3 linked regions of the Homo sapiens genome follow. The protein of the gene in region 3 purifies or fractionates together with the protein of the main gene of each other region. This does not show direct contact. Each region holds a gene or a part of one and is shown on either strand. Other genes may lie near its edges.

Region 1 (3,751 bases), on a different chromosome or scaffold from region 3:
CTGAAAAGTCCATAGACCAGTATCTGGCATATAACAGTATATAAATGTGGTTTTTTGTTTTTTGTTTTTGTTTTTTTGAGACAGAGTCTCGCGCTGTCGCCCAGGCTGGAGTGCAGTGGCAGGATCTCAGCTCACTGCAAGCTCCGCCTCCCGGGGTCAGGCCATTCTCCTGCCTCAGCCTCCCTAGTAGCTGGGACTACAGGCGCCTGCCACCACGCCCAGCTAATTTTTTTGTATTTTTAGTCGAGACGGGGTTTCACTATGTTAGCCAGGATGGTCTCGATCTCCTGACCTCGTGATCCACCCACCTCGGCCTCCCAAAGTGCTGGGATTACAGGCGTGAGCCACCACGCCCTGCCTTAAATGTGATTTTTTTTGTGAGACAGAGTCTCACTCTGTTGCCTAGGCTGGTGTGCAGTGGCGTGATCTCAGTTCACTGCAACCTCCGCCTCCCCGGTTCAAGCGATTCTCCTGCCTCAGCCTCCCAAGTAGCCGGGATTACAGGCGCCCGCCACCACGCCTAGCTAATTTTTGTATTTTTAGTATAGATGGGGTTTCACCATGTTGGTCAGGCTGGTCTCGAACTCCTGACCTCAGGTGATCCGCCCGTCTCGGCCTCCCAAAGTGCTGAGACTGCAGGCGTGAGCCACCGCGCCTGGCCTAAATGTTTACTATTATTATAACCGGACTCAGAAACTCTGGGTTTGAGTCCTAGCTCTACCAATGGCTGTTAATGTTTGGGCAAACCTCTGCACCTATCTGAGTCTCCTCCCCCATCTGAAATTGGATATAATAAAGCTGTCTTTACAGGGTGGCTGTGAAAGAAGATGCCTGAAAGGGATCTGAAAAATGTTAAGTATTGCACGAATGAATGATATTATAGCCCCTTCCGCCCCAGCCTATAATAAAAACGTAAAAGCTGATATCAGATTTTTTTCTATATTACAGGCATTGTACTTAGTACTTTACAGGCACATTCCTGCAATCGTCAAAACAACTTTAGGAGGTTGGGCACTGTTATTATCCCAACTTTGCAGACAAAAAACGATATCACGCTTGAGCCCAGGAGGTCGAGGCTGCAGTGAGCCATGTTCGCGGCACTGTACTCCAACCTGGGCGAGAGAGTGAGACCCTGTCTCAAAAACAAAAAGAAAAAAAAAAACGATCTCAGAGAGATGAAGCCTGTGATTTGCTCAAAGTCACACAGTAATGTAAGCAGTATAGCAAATAATATAAGATTCCAAAGCCCAAGGTAGTAAAAAGAGGATTATAGACGTGGTGGAACCTGTTGGCTGCGGGGCAAATGACTGACCTGTAACTGTCAGGGATTTATGGAGGGAAATGAGTGCCTAACAAAAATCCTCGTTTAGTGGGAGAGAGGTTGTTGGGTAATGACTGACTTGTAGCTGGAAGAAATCATCGGATTTTTATTCTTTTATTAAAGAAAAAAAATTTGAAATGCCTTCCATGTGCCAAGCACTGTGTCAGGTGGGAGATGACAGCTTGGTGAAACCTCTGTCAGGCTGTCTTCCTCCGCTTTCTCTATCCCTGGGTTTCCCCCTGCCTAAAAAGGATTTTGTGCTTCGTGGCTTGTCCAGGCAAGCAGGCCGTCGCGGGACCTAGACCGAGACAGTGAGTCTCTCTTTCTCCCGGGCCTCCCTTCTGTTTCCTGGGCTGCAGGGGAGCAGGAAATCTGGGGCGAGATTCCCGCCGCGGACGCGCACTGCCGAAGCCTGGTCCCTCGACCTGTCCCTGCCCAGCGCGGGGGCGCAACCGCCACGCCTCCTCACCCCTCCCTCCGGCTGCACGAATAATGACAACAGCCGCCCCTCCCACCTTTGGCGTCACGTTCAAAACAATCCTTTGACTACAACTCCCAGAAGGCCGAGCGGCTTAGCGAGTGCACCCGCTCTCGGCTGCTCCGGCAAACTACACATCCCAAAGGGCAGCGCGCGACCGCGTGTCCTTTCACAGCGCAAGTGCGGAACTGCGTTTGTTTCCGGCGTGGGTCCGGGCAAGAACCGCTTGTAGTTTGGTTTAAATTCTGCACGGGAGGACCTTCTGAGTTTACCTGTTGGGCTCCTGGCTGCGCAGGTGAGTTAAAAAAAGGGCAGGAACACAACTGTCACCTCCTTGGGGTCTGGGGACATTTTGGTGTCTGGGGAGATTTTGGTGTCTTGGGGAGATTTTGGTGTCTGGGAAGGTTGGGACAAATGCTGGAGCTAGAGCTGCAGTCCAGGATCAGAAATAATTCATATCGTTTCCTTGCCGTTTTCTAGTTTACGAAGTGCTTTTTTTTCCTCCCACAATTCCTGTAAACCCCAAGAACAACACTGTATTTGAGGAAGTGTAAGTGCTTCCAGTCGACAGCTTCAAAGGTTCAGAGAAGTTAAGTGATTGTCTAAAGACACTACTAGTAGTTACAGAGACGAGGATTAGGCTGTTTTCTGAGTTCAGACCCGGTGTGCTCTGCTTTGCATCCGTATTTCAGACGCCCTTTCCTGTTGACTAGGATGATTGGGGTCAGGGCATCTGTTACCTTCTCAAGTTTGGAGTTTACCAATAGAGTGATGGAGGGTGATATAATTAAATCTTCTGTCAGTCTGTAGGTATGGTTTTTCTCTGATGTCTGAGACATTAATTCACTCAATGTATTGAGGTGCCTACAGTCTGTCAAGCTGTATTCTAAGCAGTATATAGTATCAAACAAAAATGCCTAAGTCTTACATTTTGGGGTGGAGGAGGCGGGGAAGACACAATATATAGTGAGACCGATGGTGATAAGAAATATGGAGAGAATTAAAGCAAGGTAAGGGGAAACATTCATTGTATGTTTTTATTATTTATTTATTTATTTGTTTATTTTATTTTATTTTTTTTTGAGACAGAGCCTTGGTCTGTCACCCAGGCGGGAGTACAGTGGCATGATCTCGCCTCACTGCAACCCTGCAACCTCCACCTCCTGGGTTCAAGCGATTCTCCTGACTCAGTCTCCTGAGTAGCTGGGACTACAGGCGCCCACCATTATGCCTGGCTAATTTTTGTATTTTTTAGTAAATACTGAGATTTCACCATGTTGGCCAAGCTGGTCTTGAACTCCTGACCTCAGGTGATCCACCCACCTTGGCCTCCCAAAGTGCTGGGATTACAGGCGTGAGCCACCAGGCCTGGCCAATATTTGCATTTTTTCTACAGACGGGGTTTCACCATGTTGCCCAGGCTGGTCTTGTACTTCTGAGCTCAGGGGATCTGCCCAACTCAGCGCCCCAAAGTGCTGAAATTACAGGCCTAAGCCACTGTGCCTGGCCCATTGGATGATTTTTTTTTTTTTTTTTGAGATGGAGTCTTGCTCTGTTGCCCAGGCTAGCATGCAGTGGCACAATCTCGGGTCACTGCAGCCTCTGCCACCTGGGTTCAAGCGATTCTCCTGCCTTGGCCTCCCAAAGAGCTGGGATTACAGGCACCCTCCACCATGCCCGGCTAATTTTTTTTTTGTATGTTTAGTAGAGACAGGGTTTCACCATGTTGGCCAGGCTAGTCTTGAACTCCTGACCTCAAGTGATCCAGCCACCTCGGCTTCCCAAAGTGCTGGGATTACAGGCGTGAGCCACCATGCCTGGCCCCATTGGATGTTTTTGTAACAGAAGACTGACTTATAATTAGATCTGATATTTAATTTGTGTTCTAGGCACAGCAGCTACACAGAAGAGATGGGAGAAGAGGCTAATGATGACAAGAAGCCAACCACTAA
Region 2 (3,751 bases), on a different chromosome or scaffold from region 3:
AAGAGGTGGGATGTGAGTAAAATAAGAAGAGGAAACTGTCATAGGTAGGTACCAGATGCCAGAGGCACTCACTGCATGTGCTGCACATGTGGGTACTATAGTCATCCCTTGGTATCCACAGAAGGACTGGTTCCAGGACTCACCCCCTACCAAAATCCGCAGCTCAAGTCCCTTAAATAAAATGTAGTATTTGCATGTAACTTATGCCCATCCTCCCATCTACTTTAAGTCTTCTCTAGATTACTTAGAATACCTAATACAATGTAAATACTAAATAATTGTTATATATATATATTTTTAAATTTCTTTTTCCAAATATTTTTGATGCAACATTGGTTGAATCCACAGATTCGGAACCTGATAGCGAGAGCTGACTGTACTATCCTCATTCCACAGATATGAAAGAAGAGCGGTGCCTGAGGTGCACAAAAACATATAGGAAAGACTGGGTCAGTTGTCAAGAGGTTTGGGATGCAAAGGTTGGTTTGGAATTGGAGTCACTGCAGGTTATTTAGAATGATGATTGAAAAATGCAGATTAAGAAAATTAAACCTGGGAGTGGTACATCACACAGTGGCCCTCAAGCTTACCTACCCTTAACTCCTCATGCCCAGGCCTCACCTGCAATCAATTACATCAGAATTTCCTGGGTGGACCCAGCTGATTTTAACATATAGCTAACCACTGGTAACAGCAAGGTCTATTCAAATTCACTTAATCCCAGTAGCCCCCGGAGGTAAAGACTATTTTTATTTCCATTGTACAGATGTGGAAAGTGACTCGGAGGGGCCGGGCGCACCCCTGAGAAATCTTTACTTCTTATTTCCCCAACCTGCGCAACCTGACTCCAGAGCTGCATATTCTTACTTTCTATTAAAAGCAGAGTCTGTTTCTTATTCTTCCCTCGAGCACACAGGCTAACACCTCTTAGGTGATGGTAAATGTCTATTAGAAAAACAAAAAAGGGAGAGGTGGCTCCATTTAATTTTCCAACCTTCCTGGACTAGGTGCCAAACAAACCTGGTTAAAAAACCTCCTACCCAGCAAATCTCACCTTCTCCCAACCAAAACACGCTTCAAGCTCCATCTGCGCACCTCCTGGGCTTAGGGAGGCAAGGATGAAAGGCACAAGGTAAACAATCCTGCCTCTGGGGAGCTTTCAAGTTAGAACCTGAGAATAAGCCATATAAACAGATGACCAGCCTTTGAAAGTTGTTGTCAGGATTAAATGCATAATTTTGCAGAAGGCGTTTCGTTCGGGGCCTACCACGTGGAAAGCGCTCACCAGACGACAGCTGCAAATAAAATAAACTGCGCACCCCAACAGCGTTAGGGGCCCCGCCAATTCCTAACTCCCTGTCTTACCCCTTTGCTTCTTTCCTTGACTACCCCCACACCCGACCGAACTCCACCAGAGGCTGCGGCTCCTCTCGGGCATTGTCAGCTGCACCTTGCGCCCCAGCCCCACCAGCCCTGAACAAGGCGCCGGCGTTTCCAAGAACCAAGGGCTGCAGGCGCACGAGGAAAGCGCGGAGGAGTCAGTGACCGGGCGCACTCGGAAGCCTGGCTCCCCGTCCCGGCACTGTCTCGGCCGGCTGTGCGACCCCAGCACAGTACCTAGGCCCTTTCCTCTCTCGCCCTGGAGGACTTTCGGAAGAGCGAGATTTCCTTTCGCTGCAAAACACCAAACTCGGAAAGGGCCGCGCTTTCCTCGCCCAGGGCCCTTACCTTTCTTGGCCCCACGCGCTCGCCGTTACCCCGGCAACGCCGGCCGTGGGGCGGACACCGCTGCCGTCAAGCAGTGCGGCCGCAAAGCCAGCCGAGTGCGCAGCCGCAGAGCTCCCGTCGGGACTTGGCGGAGTGCGCCTGCGCACGGCCGGCTGGCGGGTGTTCTGTGCGCCAGCTCTGCCACTGCGGAGTATGAGGCGGAGGCTGCGTGCGCGCTTTGCTGCTCTCTGCAGGATTGTACGGAAGCCAGAACGATCCTGCAAGACGCATTTTACAGATGAGATGCAGTTACCCGTCAAATGTCACATAGTCACGTGGGAGGTGGGAGAGACCTAGAATCTTCGGCCCTCGGTGGATGGGATGTTTGAGGCGACCGACAGGACTTTATTAAATGGCCCTGAGGAAACTGATCTCATCTTTCTCAATGTAGAAAGAGGATCACAGCAGCGCACCTGTGTACGCTGCAGCATGCGGGGAACTTGCAAGGACGTTTTCTCTGGCAGACACCTGGCCAGAAGCCTCTGTGTGCCCAGACTGCCTGTGCAGTTAAGGGACAATAGGCGGCAGGTCCACCTGCTCTGCATCCCCATTTTCCCCCCTCACTGGCTGCGTGAGCTTGAATGACTGACAACCTTTCTGAGCTTGAGTTTACTGAAAAATGGGCCATCAGAATTACGGGAGATGAGCAAAACTGGAGTGCAATAGGAAGTGTAAGTTTCTCCTGACCTGGTTATTTTAAAGGAGCCCTGTGGGGAGTCCAATATATACTTTCCCAAATATGAATCACAGGAGTTCCACCACACAGACTAAGCAGGAGGCAAAGGAGGATGGCAAGGAAGTGTGGCAAATACTGCTGGAGAGATTCATGGTGCTAGATGTGATGATGGATGTTGAATTTTGGACTTCTGCCAATGTTCTTGCCTCCATTCCTTCACGCATGCTGTTGCCTCTATGTTCCCTCCCCTCTGTTAGCTGCAGTAATTCCTGGTCAGCCTTTAGGTCTCAGCTCAAATATCACCTCTTCCAGGAGACTTCTTGCCTTCCCAGACCTGCTTGGGTGACTTGCCTCTGTGCTCTGCAGTAGTCTGGCATGGCATGTGTTGTCCCTGTTTTTCTGGCCCTTTTTATTTTTTGAGACGGAGCCTGGCTCTGTCGCCCAGGCTGGAATGCAGTGGCACCATCTCAGCTCACTTACCTCACTGCAATCTCTGCCTCCCAGGTTCAGGTGATTCTCCTGCCTCAGCCTCCCGAGTAGCTCGGATTACAGGCGCCTGCCACCACGCCCGGCTGATTGTTATATTTTTAGTAGAAACGGGGTTTCACCACGTTGGCCAGGCTGGTCTCAAACTCCTGACCTCAAGCGATCCTCCCGCCTCGGCCTCCCAAAGTGCTGGGATTACAGGCTTGAGCCACTGCATCCTGCCTGGCCCTTTTTGAACTGCACTGTGGGCTTGCTCTTGGTAGAGTGAGATCATGTCGCAGCATTCAGTGGGTCCTCTGCTGCAAGGACCTTCACTGCTAGGCTAGGGAGTTCAGGTTTTAGATAAACCAAAATCAAAGAGCTTTGTGGTAAGAATGTTGCAAAAGAAAGGGAGAAAATTGGCAAGAGTCACAGGATATGGTAACAGGATGGATTGGGCAGGGGAGAGACAGCTGAAGAGAGGCTGTAATATCCGACCAGAACATGCCAATTTAAGAAATACTGGTTTTAGAATTAGAGGGCTTTAACAATGAAAGGGATTCAGAGGTTGTCCAGTTAAACTTCCTTATTTAACTGATAAGAAAACAGTTCCAGTGGCACTGTGAGTTGTCAGAGATAACCGAGCAGGTCTGAGGTGGGGCTGAGACTAGAGCCAGGTCTCTTAAATCCCATCCCAGCTCGTGGAAGGATTTGGGGTTTGCTGATAATGGGATCTCAAATTCCCCTCCCAAAAACATAAAAAAAGAAATTAAAAAAAGAAAAAAAATCTGTAAATTTTAAAAAAGAAAGAAATTTTCCCCAAGACTTTCTCAAGTGCATTTT
Region 3 (3,751 bases):
TTTCCTCTTTTTGTACTTCTTGCTGTCAGTTACCTCAAAACTGACCTGAGGGTCTGGCAGCATAAATCCATCAGTAAGTTTATAATAGACTATTGTAGAATCAGACTCCACTATGGCCAAAGTAAAAGACATCGGCAAATCTGGATCACCTTGCAACTTTCGAGATGCCTTCAAGATCTCCCTTATCCTGAAAATAAAGTCACAATATACTTAGGAGTTGCGGTCACTCAATTAGATGAGATGTGACAGAAGAAAGCACTAGAAAACTTGAAAACAGGTCACAAGAAACCAAACTGAAGTAAAAAGAGAAAAAATAATTTTAAAAAATAACATCAGAGTCTTCTGGTATAGTATCAAATAAGTTCAACATTACACATAATTGGAATCACAGAAGGAAAGGAAAGAGAATGGTATAGAAATAGTTGACAGTTTTCCAAAATTGTTGTCTCTGAATCTGAAGTGTATCTTTTGTAGATAGCATATAGTTGGATCTTGTTTTTATATCCAATCTGACAATCTCTGCCCTTTTGAGTGTTTATTCAAATTTAAAATTAACATTGGTATGGTTGGATTCATGCCTGCCATTTAGCTATTTGTTTTCTATATATCACATGTCTTTTTACTTCCTCTCACCCTCCTTTATCACCTTCTTTTCTATTAAATAGGTATTTTCTAGTACACCATTTTAATTAATGTATTTTTTTTTACTATAGTTTCTTGAGTTTCGTAGTGATGACTCTAGAGATTACTATTGCGTCTTAGTTTATCACAATTTCTCTCAGCTTAATACTAACTTGATTCTAAAAAATATAGAAATTGCTCCAATAGAGCTTTATTCCTTTCCTCCACCTTTATGCTATTATTGTCATATATGTTTATATATTTAAACCCAGTAATATAGTGTTGTAATTATTACTTTAAATAATTTTCTTTTTATAAAGTTAAGAGGAGAAAGGAAAATATATTAGGGTCTTTTACATTCACATATTTAATATTCCTGGTATTCTTCATTTCTTCACATAACTGTCTGGTGTCATTGTTTACTCCAATATAGCTTCATTCCTTCCCCCATCCTTTGTGTTAATAACATCATATAAGTTACTTCTTAACGTGCTATAAGGCTGGTCAGTTGATTTTTGACAAAGGTACAAAGGCAATTCAATGGAGAAAGTCTTTTCAAGGATACTTGAAATGAAGATAGTAGTACACCTTTATGTTTACACATAAGATTATTATATGAATCAATTAAATGGCATATATGAAAAGACTTCATAAACTGTCAAGTGGTCATATTATGTAGTATATATACAACTTTGCTACCTTGCAAATTGGGATATAATATTTATAGATACCCCTGCCTCCATGATTATTGCTAAAACTGAATACTAACCCAAACATACTAAGGTACACTGTGCCATTAGTGGAAATACAGAAAATGTTTCTTTTCTGAAACAGTCTGAATCCCAGAAATTGACTTAGTCCTTAAAAAATTATTTCCACCTATGCTGAACTGCATTACAACTAGCTAGATTCTTATTCACAAGAATGATTTACTTTAGAGAAAGATATTCTGATAAAGCAACGATAGATATTAATCAGAAACTTCATTACTCAGCACTGATGGGAAGTCACACTGTGATAAAAGGCAGCATATCACAATTGCTTCTTCAATGCAAATCTTTTAATGTAGCTAAGTATTTTCCTTCTTCAAAAGTGGCACGCCAATATCTAAATTAATAATAATAGAAAAAGATACATTTTTATAGGCTGTCCATCTTGAATTAATTTTTTTCTACAAAGATGGCAAAGAAGAAACAGACAATGGATCAACTAAAATTTTAACTTATCTACATCTTTTGTTGTCAGCATGTATCATGATTACTTCACAGTATGCAATATACATAAAACCCAATATATAATGCACATAAAGCCACTTCAATGCCACAAGATAAATTTCTCTAAACATCCCTAACTGGTAGACTGTGATGAGAATGGGACACAGACAAGAAGGAAGCCTGTTAACACAACTTTAACACATTTTCCATTTCTGAAGATATAATGTTATTTAAATCAGAAGGTGTGTTTGTATGTGTGTGTTGGGGGGTGGTGTTCACTAAGGAAAACTATATGGGAATTGTAGCCCATATAGTGAAATTTAGAATAGAAATTTCCATCTTATTCACTACTCTTTTTCCATTCTCAATTTATATCTGTTTCCAGAGTTCTTTGATTTAAGCAGCAAAACATTTTCATACTTACCCCAAATACCCATGCAGGAAACCCTAACATTTGAAAACTAACTCAGAGTTGTAAAAGGGGTTTTGTTTTCAGAGTTGAGAGAAATCACTGTCAAAAATGAAATGGAAGTTCCCATTTCTGAGGCCTTGTTTATGGTATTTGGTTGGAGGGGGCGGTGATTGTGAATTACCAGTGAATCTTCTCACTAGTAACAGAATAAAATAGTTTATCTGCCTCTGTTACTCAAGGTACATTCCAGAAGTCTTACAGTTTCTTGTTCAGGATCTCTTCTAGTCGATTTTTCAAGTATGTTTAAAGCAAAGCCATCATCTTTTCCTCAACAAACAAGAACAAGACCTTTCTTGTTTGTTTCCATTATAGGATACTGCATAAAATCTTAAAAATGTTTATTTTGCCTTTTAGTCAACAGATTATATTTTCCCAATCTATTAATAATAGCAGTAACAAAAGATTCTTAAGTTCTTAAAAAACCACATATGATTGTAAAGATCCCAAGAACATTTAAGTATCACCAGAATACTATAATCTCACTTAATTTCTAACAAGCTTATGGTTTGAAATCTCACTTTAGAAATGACAGAATGTTTCCTTATATGTATAAATTTTAATAGCTCAGTTCTTTGGAAAAATATTGTGAAGATACTGGAAATATTGTATGTTTCATCACACAAATCTACAACAATAAACGATAAAATTCTTTATAGTTCATATTGGATAGAAATCAACCTATGAAAAATATAACCTATGTATTAATACTAACAGTTTCAAGTTTTAAACTCAGTTATATCTAAAGGGAAAAATCCCACCTAAAGAAAAATATGTATCAATAATAATAGCTATTTAATAACAGCAACAAAATTTGATGCTCACAACAGGTTTTTATTTCTCATAACTGTTCATAGAGGAGCTCTGTGTACTGAAAAAAAGTGATTCCAGAGCTTCATATAGCTAACTTGAAAACAAGCCTGAAGCAAATACACAGTTAACACTATTTGGCTAATACCTTTAGTCCAAGCTATTTAAATGCTTTCCATAAATCTTAGCATTGATTTTTCTGTAATGATTCTGAAACAGATACTAAGTAATCTCTGGAGATTTACACAGAGGACAAGAAGTTGAAGACCGCATTACTTTTAACTTCAAATGCTATTGAAATAGAATGTATCATGGGTTAAAAGTAGTATTAATTTCAACCCATAGAAAGTATCTCCTATCCTCTTCAATGTGGCCAAATAATATATGCTATAGCCTTATTAGTAAAAGGGAATAATTCCTTGATTTGCCTCATTATGATATAATGGAATGACATGCCATAATGCAACTCTGAAACATAATGCAAAATTAAGTTGGTGTCAGAGGCACCAAAGAAGCCTTATTCATCCACAGGCTCAGTCCCAAAGAAAAGTTTCAGGGATAACAGACCACCTCCTTGAAATTCATGCCAATGCCTTCCTAGTAAAAAATCAAGGCAGCTAAAATTCCAAGGGGGTTT

Evidence for each region.
Region 1: the proteins of TSEN15 (region 3) and CLP1 purify together in Homo sapiens (affinity purification with mass spectrometry; 5 studies listed by BioGRID and IntAct, with this or other methods). This does not show direct contact.
Region 2: the proteins of TSEN15 (region 3) and TSEN2 purify together in Homo sapiens (affinity purification with mass spectrometry; 5 studies listed by BioGRID and IntAct, with this or other methods). This does not show direct contact.

What each region holds. Positions count from the first base shown.
Region 1 is NC_000011.10:57,655,767-57,659,517, forward strand, and holds the start of CLP1 (polyribonucleotide 5'-hydroxyl-kinase Clp1), read left to right. Parts: upstream 1-1,995; 5' UTR 1,996-2,094; intron 2,095-3,688; 5' UTR 3,689-3,710; coding exon 3,711-3,751. UniProt on the Homo sapiens protein: Polynucleotide kinase that can phosphorylate the 5'-hydroxyl groups of double-stranded RNA (dsRNA), single-stranded RNA (ssRNA), double-stranded DNA (dsDNA) and double-stranded DNA:RNA hybrids. dsRNA is phosphorylated more efficiently than dsDNA, and the RNA component of a DNA:RNA hybrid is phosphorylated more efficiently than the DNA component.
Region 2 is NC_000003.12:12,482,495-12,486,245, reverse strand, and holds the start of TSEN2 (tRNA-splicing endonuclease subunit Sen2), read right to left. Parts: upstream 1,767-3,751; 5' UTR 1,366-1,766; exon of another isoform or gene 1,055-1,365; intron 1-1,054.
Region 3 is NC_000001.11:184,068,593-184,072,343, reverse strand, and holds part of TSEN15 (tRNA-splicing endonuclease subunit Sen15), read right to left. Parts: intron 1,729-3,751; exon of another isoform or gene 1,612-1,728; intron 188-1,611; coding exon 46-187; coding exon of another isoform or gene 34-45; intron 1-33. UniProt on the Homo sapiens protein: Non-catalytic subunit of the tRNA-splicing endonuclease complex, a complex responsible for identification and cleavage of the splice sites in pre-tRNA. It cleaves pre-tRNA at the 5' and 3' splice sites to release the intron.